Linked DNA regions of Homo sapiens. The protein of the gene in region 1 interacts with the protein of each later gene in a pairwise test. Each region holds a gene or a part of one and is shown on either strand. Other genes may lie near its edges. The genes, in order: KIF24 and EXOSC7.

What was found.
Region 2: the proteins of KIF24 (region 1) and EXOSC7 interact in a two-hybrid assay, tested with the Homo sapiens proteins (one large-scale study listed by BioGRID).

Annotation. Positions count from the first base shown.
Region 1 is NC_000009.12:34,305,015-34,308,833, forward strand, and holds part of KIF24 (kinesin-like protein KIF24), read right to left. Parts: intron 1,428-3,819; coding exon 1,238-1,427; intron 1-1,237. UniProt on the Homo sapiens protein: Microtubule-dependent motor protein that acts as a negative regulator of ciliogenesis by mediating recruitment of CCP110 to mother centriole in cycling cells, leading to restrict nucleation of cilia at centrioles.
Region 2 is NC_000003.12:44,978,951-44,982,769, reverse strand, and holds part of EXOSC7 (exosome complex component RRP42), read right to left. Parts: intron 1-3,819. UniProt on the Homo sapiens protein: Non-catalytic component of the RNA exosome complex which has 3'->5' exoribonuclease activity and participates in a multitude of cellular RNA processing and degradation events.

The DNA.
Region 1 (3,819 bases):
CAAATCTTAACATCCAATGGATTATCTGGTTTTAGATTACTCACAATTTTTCACAATTTTAGGAGTACCTAAATGATGATTCTTTCCATCTGTGGAGTTTGCTGTTTCCCTATGAGACTAAAGAATTATTGCAAGGTACCTTCAGCTTGGAATAAGTTTCTTTCAATACCAAACTCTTTCTCCTTGGACTCTTCATAATCACTCTAGCAGGCAGTGAACATTATTTACATGGCTGAGTTATTAGTGTTTTATTTAAACCCTTATATGTTAGATGTGAAATCATATCTCTGGATTTTATTTACCCACTGCAATCTACCCTGTATAAAGTGGTCTGCTCAGAGCCCAATTTTCGCCAATTAAGTATAAGCCCAAGACAGCTGAGAATCAAAATAAGCACGTGGCTGGCAATTGTCGGTCCTGTTGCCCAAAAAGATATTGTCCATCATTAAACCCAAGTCTCAAAGTCAGCAGAATGAGAAGTTCACACTGTGAGATGCAAGCAAGAATGGAAATCAACTGTGTGACATCTCATAGTCATATATTCAGTGACTGGTCCTGTTGACAACTACTTAATTATTTATTTGTTTTTTATTTTTATATTCTTTTAGAGGCAGATCCTCCCTCTGTTGCCCAGGCTGGAGTGCAGTGGTGCAATCATAGCTCACTGTAATGCAGAACTCCTGGGCTCAAGTGATCCTCCTGCCTCAGCCTCCTGAGTAGTTAAGACTACAGGTACACACCACCATGCTGGGCTAGTTTTAAGATCTTTTCTGGAGAGACAGGATCTCGCTATGGTGCCCAGGGTGGTCTCAAACTCTTGGGCTCAAGTGATCCTCCCACTGCAGCCTCCCAAAGCACTGGGATTATAGGCGTGAGCCACCACACCTGGCCCCACTTCATTATTTAAATTATTTTTATTCCTTCATTCCTCCTTTTTTTTGCTGAATATGTATAATTAAATTCACACAAAGCATGTTAAGTGAATATATGATGTAGCTCCACTGCACAAGAGAAATTGTTTTTGTATCCCCTATTGCACCGTCTTTTGAAAAAATGAAGGCCCTGGATATCAATGACTTAATACAGTGTCACATCAGGAATGAATGTCAACACCCGAACCAGAAACTTGATTTTCAGTGTTCTAACAGAAACTTGTATGCCACCACTCAAACAAAAAGCAAAAAAAAATGACATACTTGATAATATTAGTTCCAAACATAAAACGAAAACATCATACCTGCAGAATATATTGAGTGAGGTCAACTGCTTCTTTCTTCTCATGCACAAGTAGAGTTTCTTTGTCTTCTACAGTAATAATATTAATTTCTCCACGACGTACCTCCCTCATGCCCAGGGGGCGTTTTCGAACACAAACTCTGATTTTCTCCATCTCAGTCCAAGGATTCTGTTTCTCTGAAGTGTTCTGTCTAATATGTTTATAAACAGGCTTTTAATTTTTAATAATAGGACAAGATTACTTAACAGGTCAAAGTATTGGTACCTTTTAGCCGGGCGCGGTGGCTTACGCCTGTAATCCCAGCACTTTGAGAGGCCGAGGTGGGCGGATCACGATGTCAGGAGATCAAGACCATCCTGGCTAACACGGTGAAACCCCATCTCTACTAAAAATACAAAAAATTAGCCAGGCATAGTGGCGTGCGCCTGTAATCCCAGCTACTTGGGAGGCTGAGGCAGGAGAATGGCGTGAACCCGGGAGGCAGAGCTTGCAGTGAGCCGAGATTGCGCCACTGCACTCCAGCCTGGGCGACAGAGCCAGATTCTGTCTCAAAAAAAAAAAAAGTATTGGTACATTTTGCTGTATATTAGGCATAATATATTTCTTAAAGTTACAAAGTAAAGTGTCAACCCTGAGAAAGTTCTTCTATCTCCATCCCCACCCTGCTCCGCCCTTTTCCTTGCAAAAACACAAATAACAGAACAACAACAAAAAACCAACCAACAAACAAAAAACCCCTAAGAGATCATATATAGAATACTATTTTATACAATTGTTTCATATCAATTCTGATTTCCTTAGCCCTCCAACTGGCTGCTGAAAAAAAATTTTTTTTGAGATAGGATCTCACTCTGTCACCCAGACTGGAGTACAGTGGCACAGCCATGGCTCATTGCAGCCTCAACCTCCAGGGTTCAAGAAATTCTACCTCAGCCTCCTAAGTAGCTAGGACTATAGCATACAACACCGCAGCTGGCTAATTTTTGTAATTTTTGTAGGGACAGGGTCCCACTATCTTGCCCAGGCTGGTCTTCAACTTATGGCCTCAAGCAATCCTCCCATTTTGGCCTGTCAAAGTGCTGGGATTACAAGCATCAGTCATCACGCTCAGCCTGGAGAATAATTTTTTTACTGGGATCTGAATTGGTTTAAAAAAAAAAAAACCAGCAAATAATTTTCTAATATAATGAATGCATAAAGCACTAATTTTATGGCATGTTTTAAAGCAAATTTTATTTTCTTAACCAACATTTAGGGACTTTAAAATGCATCATTTTTGCATGAAACTGCAGATGGAATAAATAAATGACAGAATAAATGAAATGTACCATTTTGAGGTACTGTGGGAAAATCGTGACAATCATTGAAACTGGATGACGGGCCAGGTGCGGTGGCTCACGCCTGTAATCCTAGCACTTCGAGAGGCTGAGGCGGGCAGATCACTTGAGGTCAGGAGTTCGAGACCAGCCTGGCCAACATGGTGAAACCCCATCTCTACTAAAAATATAAAACTTAGCTGGGCATGCTCACTTAAACCCAGGAGGTGGAGTTCACAGGTGAGATAGTGCCATTGCATTCCAGCCTGGGCAACAGAGCAAGACTCTGTCTGAAAAAAAAAAAAAAAAAAAGAAAAAAGAAAAAGAAATTGGATGATGGACATATTGGGATTCAGTGTTCTATTTTTTTCTTCTTTTGCATATGTTTGATTTTTCACAAGAAAAGGGAATTTTTTGTTTTGAGACAGGGTCTTGCTCTATCACCCAGACTGGAGTGCAGTGGTGCGAGCATAGCTCACTGAAGCCTCAACCTCCTGGGCTGAAGCCATCCTCCCACTTCAGCCAATAGTAGCTGGAACTACAGGTGCACACCATCATGTCTGGCTAATTTTTGTATTTTTGTAGAAACAGGGTCTCACCATGTTGCCCAGGCTGGCCTCGAACTCCTGGGCTCAAGCAATCTGCCTGCCTTGGCCTCCCAAAATGCCAGGATTGCAGGCATGAGCCACTGTGCTCATCAAAAATGAAAATTTTTAATGCTTTTTTTTTTTTTTGAGACAGAGTTTCATTGTGTCACCCAGGCTGGAGTGCAGTGGCACAATCTTGGCTCACTGCAACCTCTGCCTCCTGGGTTCAAGCGATTTTCCTACCTCAGCCTCTAGAATAGCTGGGACTGCAGGCACCTGCCATGACGCTCTGCTAATTTTTGTATTTTTAGTAGAGATGGGGTTTAGCCATGTTGGCCAGGCTGACCTTGAACTCCTGACCTCAGGTGATCCACCCGCCTTGGCCTCCCAAAGTGCTGGGATTAGAGGTGTGAGCCACTGTGCCTGGCCTAATGCATCATTTTAATAAGGGTTTTGTGTTAAAATCTTTAGTTGTTGGATATCAATAACCTAATCATATAAAGCTGATCAAAGAGGATAGAAAATGTTTGGTCCTTTTTAAAATTGTTCAGGGCTCTAGGATGACTCATATGAACAAAAGGCCCATAGTTTCAAGTTCAAGGAGCAAAAAGACATGCATGTTTTTTTAAAAAGCTCTAGTTTGGGCAGGGCAGAGTGGCTCTCACCTGTAATCCCAGTG
Region 2 (3,819 bases), on another chromosome or scaffold:
GGTCTGTAAACAGAAAGGGCAGAGAGCTAAAAATCAAGAGTCCTGAGGGCTGGCTCCAATTCTGTCATGGCCAGACTGAGCAACCGAATACTGACTGCTCAATCTCATAGTTGAAAACCAGGCTGAGGCCCTGATCTCCCTCTTCCATGCTATACCCCTAAACAATGCTTATGATGAAAGCAAGATCCACAGAAAAGAAATGGAAGCCATCAGCTGGGCTACAACTCCCTTCAACAGCCAAGAACATACAATAAAATGGCTTTCACAGGGTTCCAAGAGCCCTGTGGTAGGGTTCGTCAATTGCCATGGCCAGGTCTGAACCTATGAGGGCCAGTTTAATGTCCAGGTCATAGCCATAGCACTCAGTAGGCTGAACCTGGGAAAGCTTTATTGTGCCTAAAGCCCTGTAAAGGCCACATAACAGTCACCATCCATCCCCAACAGCCAGGACCAGGGGTAGGTGCCTGAACCAAAGGCATATAATCCAAAGGGTGACCAACTCTTTTTGGCGTGAAATACTACCAGACCAAACTGATTCTCTCATTGCAATCTGGTCTCTGATCTGAGAAACACTTGAGAGAAGAAAGGAGTTAAAGAGGAGCTGACAGGTCATGATATGGAGGAGCCCAGAGAGGCCACACGAAAGTAAAGGTATTGGGCAGAGGCAGATTCTACAAAGAAGGGAAGCTGGACAGCAAGTGGCTGCAGAGAAGGGATAAATCTTGGCAGAGAAAAGCAGAGATGTCACTAGAGATAAAGACAGACAGCCACACAGGCCATGAGATAATCCACGGAGCCCATGAGAGGCGGTACCTCAGAGCTGTCTGGGGACTTTCCAGCTCTTGCCACAGATCCCCCTTCTCTTTTTTCTTTTTCTTTCTTTTAAGAGACAGAGTATCTCTCTGTCACCCAGGCTGGAGTGAAATCTCCAACTCCTGGGCTCAAGCGATCCTCTGGCCTCAGCCTCCCAAGCAGCTAGGCCTACAGGCACACACCACCACACACCTAATTTTTTTTAGAGATAGGGTGTTGCTATGTTGCCCAGACTGGATGCCAACTCCTGGCCTCTGGTGATCCTCCCACCTCAGCCTCCCAAAGGGCTGGGATTACAGGTGTGAGCCACTGCACCTGGCCTATCCCTTTTCTTGAGATAATTGAAAAATCCCGATTCCTTCAAATCAAAAGAGGTTTAATTCTCAGGAGCCACAGGCTGAATCTTTAATGAGGTCACTATGAAGGCTGGGGATCTAGTGTGGATGGTTTAAGACAAAGTCACACTTCTGATGGAAAAACAAACTTGAAAGGGAGCCAGCATTTTTTCTGTGTTAACCACAGCCCAAGTGCTTGACATCTCTTATCTCATCATTCCTCATAACCCCATTCTACTTCCAGGTGCATAAGTCCCCATTTTACACAAGGGAAGCAGGTTCAGTTATGCAAGTAAAACCACTTATTGTAAATGGTGAAGGTGCCTGCTCAGTCTGACTCCAAAGCCTCATTCAAAAAGAGGCAGGAAACCATATGACTTCAGCAGGAGAGAGCAGAGATTTCTTTATCTCTGGTCAGTGGCTTACCCATGGGCCAATGTCTGGTGGCTGCCCCCAAATTTCCCAACACTTTATGATAATGTCCATTCTCAGGCCCCAGCCCCAGAGAGTCTGATTCAGAATGTTGGGGTAAAGCCTCAGAATCTGTATTTTGTAGGTGAGTAAAATGCACTTCAAGGCTTCAGAATCCCTGGGCTAAGAGGGAGGTTAGCAATGGCTTCTCATGGATGAGGAAAACACACATCTAGCCCAGTAAGCCAGAAAAGAGGATAAATCCTAGATTCTAAAAATTCTGAAGTCTGCTCCAAGTTCTGCATGGTATGGGCAGAGTAAATCGTTTATGATACTAGTAAGACAAAAGCTATACAAAGAAATGCAATATAGGGTTCTAAAGGAACTTATACTCAATGTGGGAAAAATGCAACCAAAACAATACAGCAGTATATGCCATATACTATTTAAGCTCTAGAAAAACTGGGGAGTGGGAGGTGTCAATTAGAACTTTCTCTTTCCCTTCCAGTTTCCCCACAAGCTTTTAGAGAAAGGGGGAAAGAAAAGGAGGTAGAGGAAGCAAAGATTCTCTCCTGCCTTGATCTCTGGATCCCTACTGAGGAAATGGAAGAAATGACTTTCACTGCAGCAGGAAGGTGGCCTCAGAGTCAAGTATGGGCTTTGCAATCAGACAGGTCTGGATTTAAATCCCAGTGCCACCACTCAATTACTGTGTCACCTTGACAAGCGACTCAACCTGCCCGAGCTCAGTTCCTCATCTATAGAGATAACATTTACCTTCAGAACTGTTGTAAATATTCAATGAAATAAAAATTATAATATGTACCTAATAAGAATGGGATATAGCCTTCAAAGACTGAAAGAGAACCTAACAGAAACCAATCAAATTATTTATCAAAATACCGATTTAATCCACCTTTTTGATTCTCTGTTCTCCCCTGGGAGAGGGGATCTGTTCACCAGGTTGACTCAAATTGTATCACCTAGACTCCCTTTGCTGGCTTCTGGTTGGGTTTGTCCAGTGGAAGATACCAGATCAGAGGGTGCCCCTCACCCCCAATCTAGTGGCCACATTTCTGATAGTGCCTGCATCTATCGAAGACTATGACTTATGTTGGGCAGCCCTTCCTCCACAGTTCCAGCTATCACTGAAATGTGGTAATACTGTTTCCTCCCCTGGCCCCTTTGGAATAGGGGCAGTAGCCACTCCCAGTAGTTGTCTTGGGGCTCCTCAACATCTCTTATTGGTTCCCTGAAACCCCCCCCATACTGCTCTAGAGTCCCATCATAAAAGTCTCCTGAACTACCTGAAGAGGGTTCCATTTTCTGCCAATAACTAAAATGATCCACCCTCCCTTCTCACAAACTGACTTCTCCCAAGTGTGACACATCCTCTAGTGGCCATGTTTGAGCCTAATTATTCTGTCCATCCTTTCCCTCAACCCCCTAAAAGAACTAGAGTTTCTTTCTCTTGGAAACATGAGTTCAGAACTGAACGAGAAGGAATGGTCTCTTTTACAGAGGAACTGGGAAGGAACCACATTTTTTCTACCACTGGCCCAAGAAATAGAAAACCAATCTGTAGGGAGACAAAAACAAAGCAAAGAGGGGGAAAAAAAAAACCAGCAGAGATTAGGATTCCTGGAGAAACACTTGCAGCCTTGTAATCCATACTGTTTTGCTTGAGCCGATGTGTTGGTTACCATTACTAGCAACTGAATCCTCAACACATCGTGAGGTTAATTTCAACTGCTTCTAACTATCACCAAAACAAGATGAAATATTCCCTGAAATAGTAAAAGAACCAAAGGCTGAAGGGAAAGTGACATCAGAAGCTGAAATGGACGTTACTGGACCAAAGGTGAAAAGTAAAACACAAAATGACTAGGACTATACAAGCAACAGGAGTTCAGGCAGGCACTGCTTAAGGTGCACTGCCGGCACTCTATAACCAACGCAACAAAAGTTTAGGAGATTTCAGAACTGAATCAGTTGAGATTCCATGGTAGGCTCATTCACCTGCATCCTGACCTTTATTTGGATGGTGTAAATTGTGTTTTGCTCCTCTATACATATGGCATATTTTGGGCCAACATTAATAAGCCCTTATGAAGACGTTGATTTGAAGCCCATTACTCTGCATGGCTCTGTGATACACAGAGCTGAGCATTTACCAACAACTGTGCCCAAATATGTCCATGGTACTGGTGAGAGGGAGGTTTAATTTAAAAAATAAAAACACCATCCAACTCATTCCCCC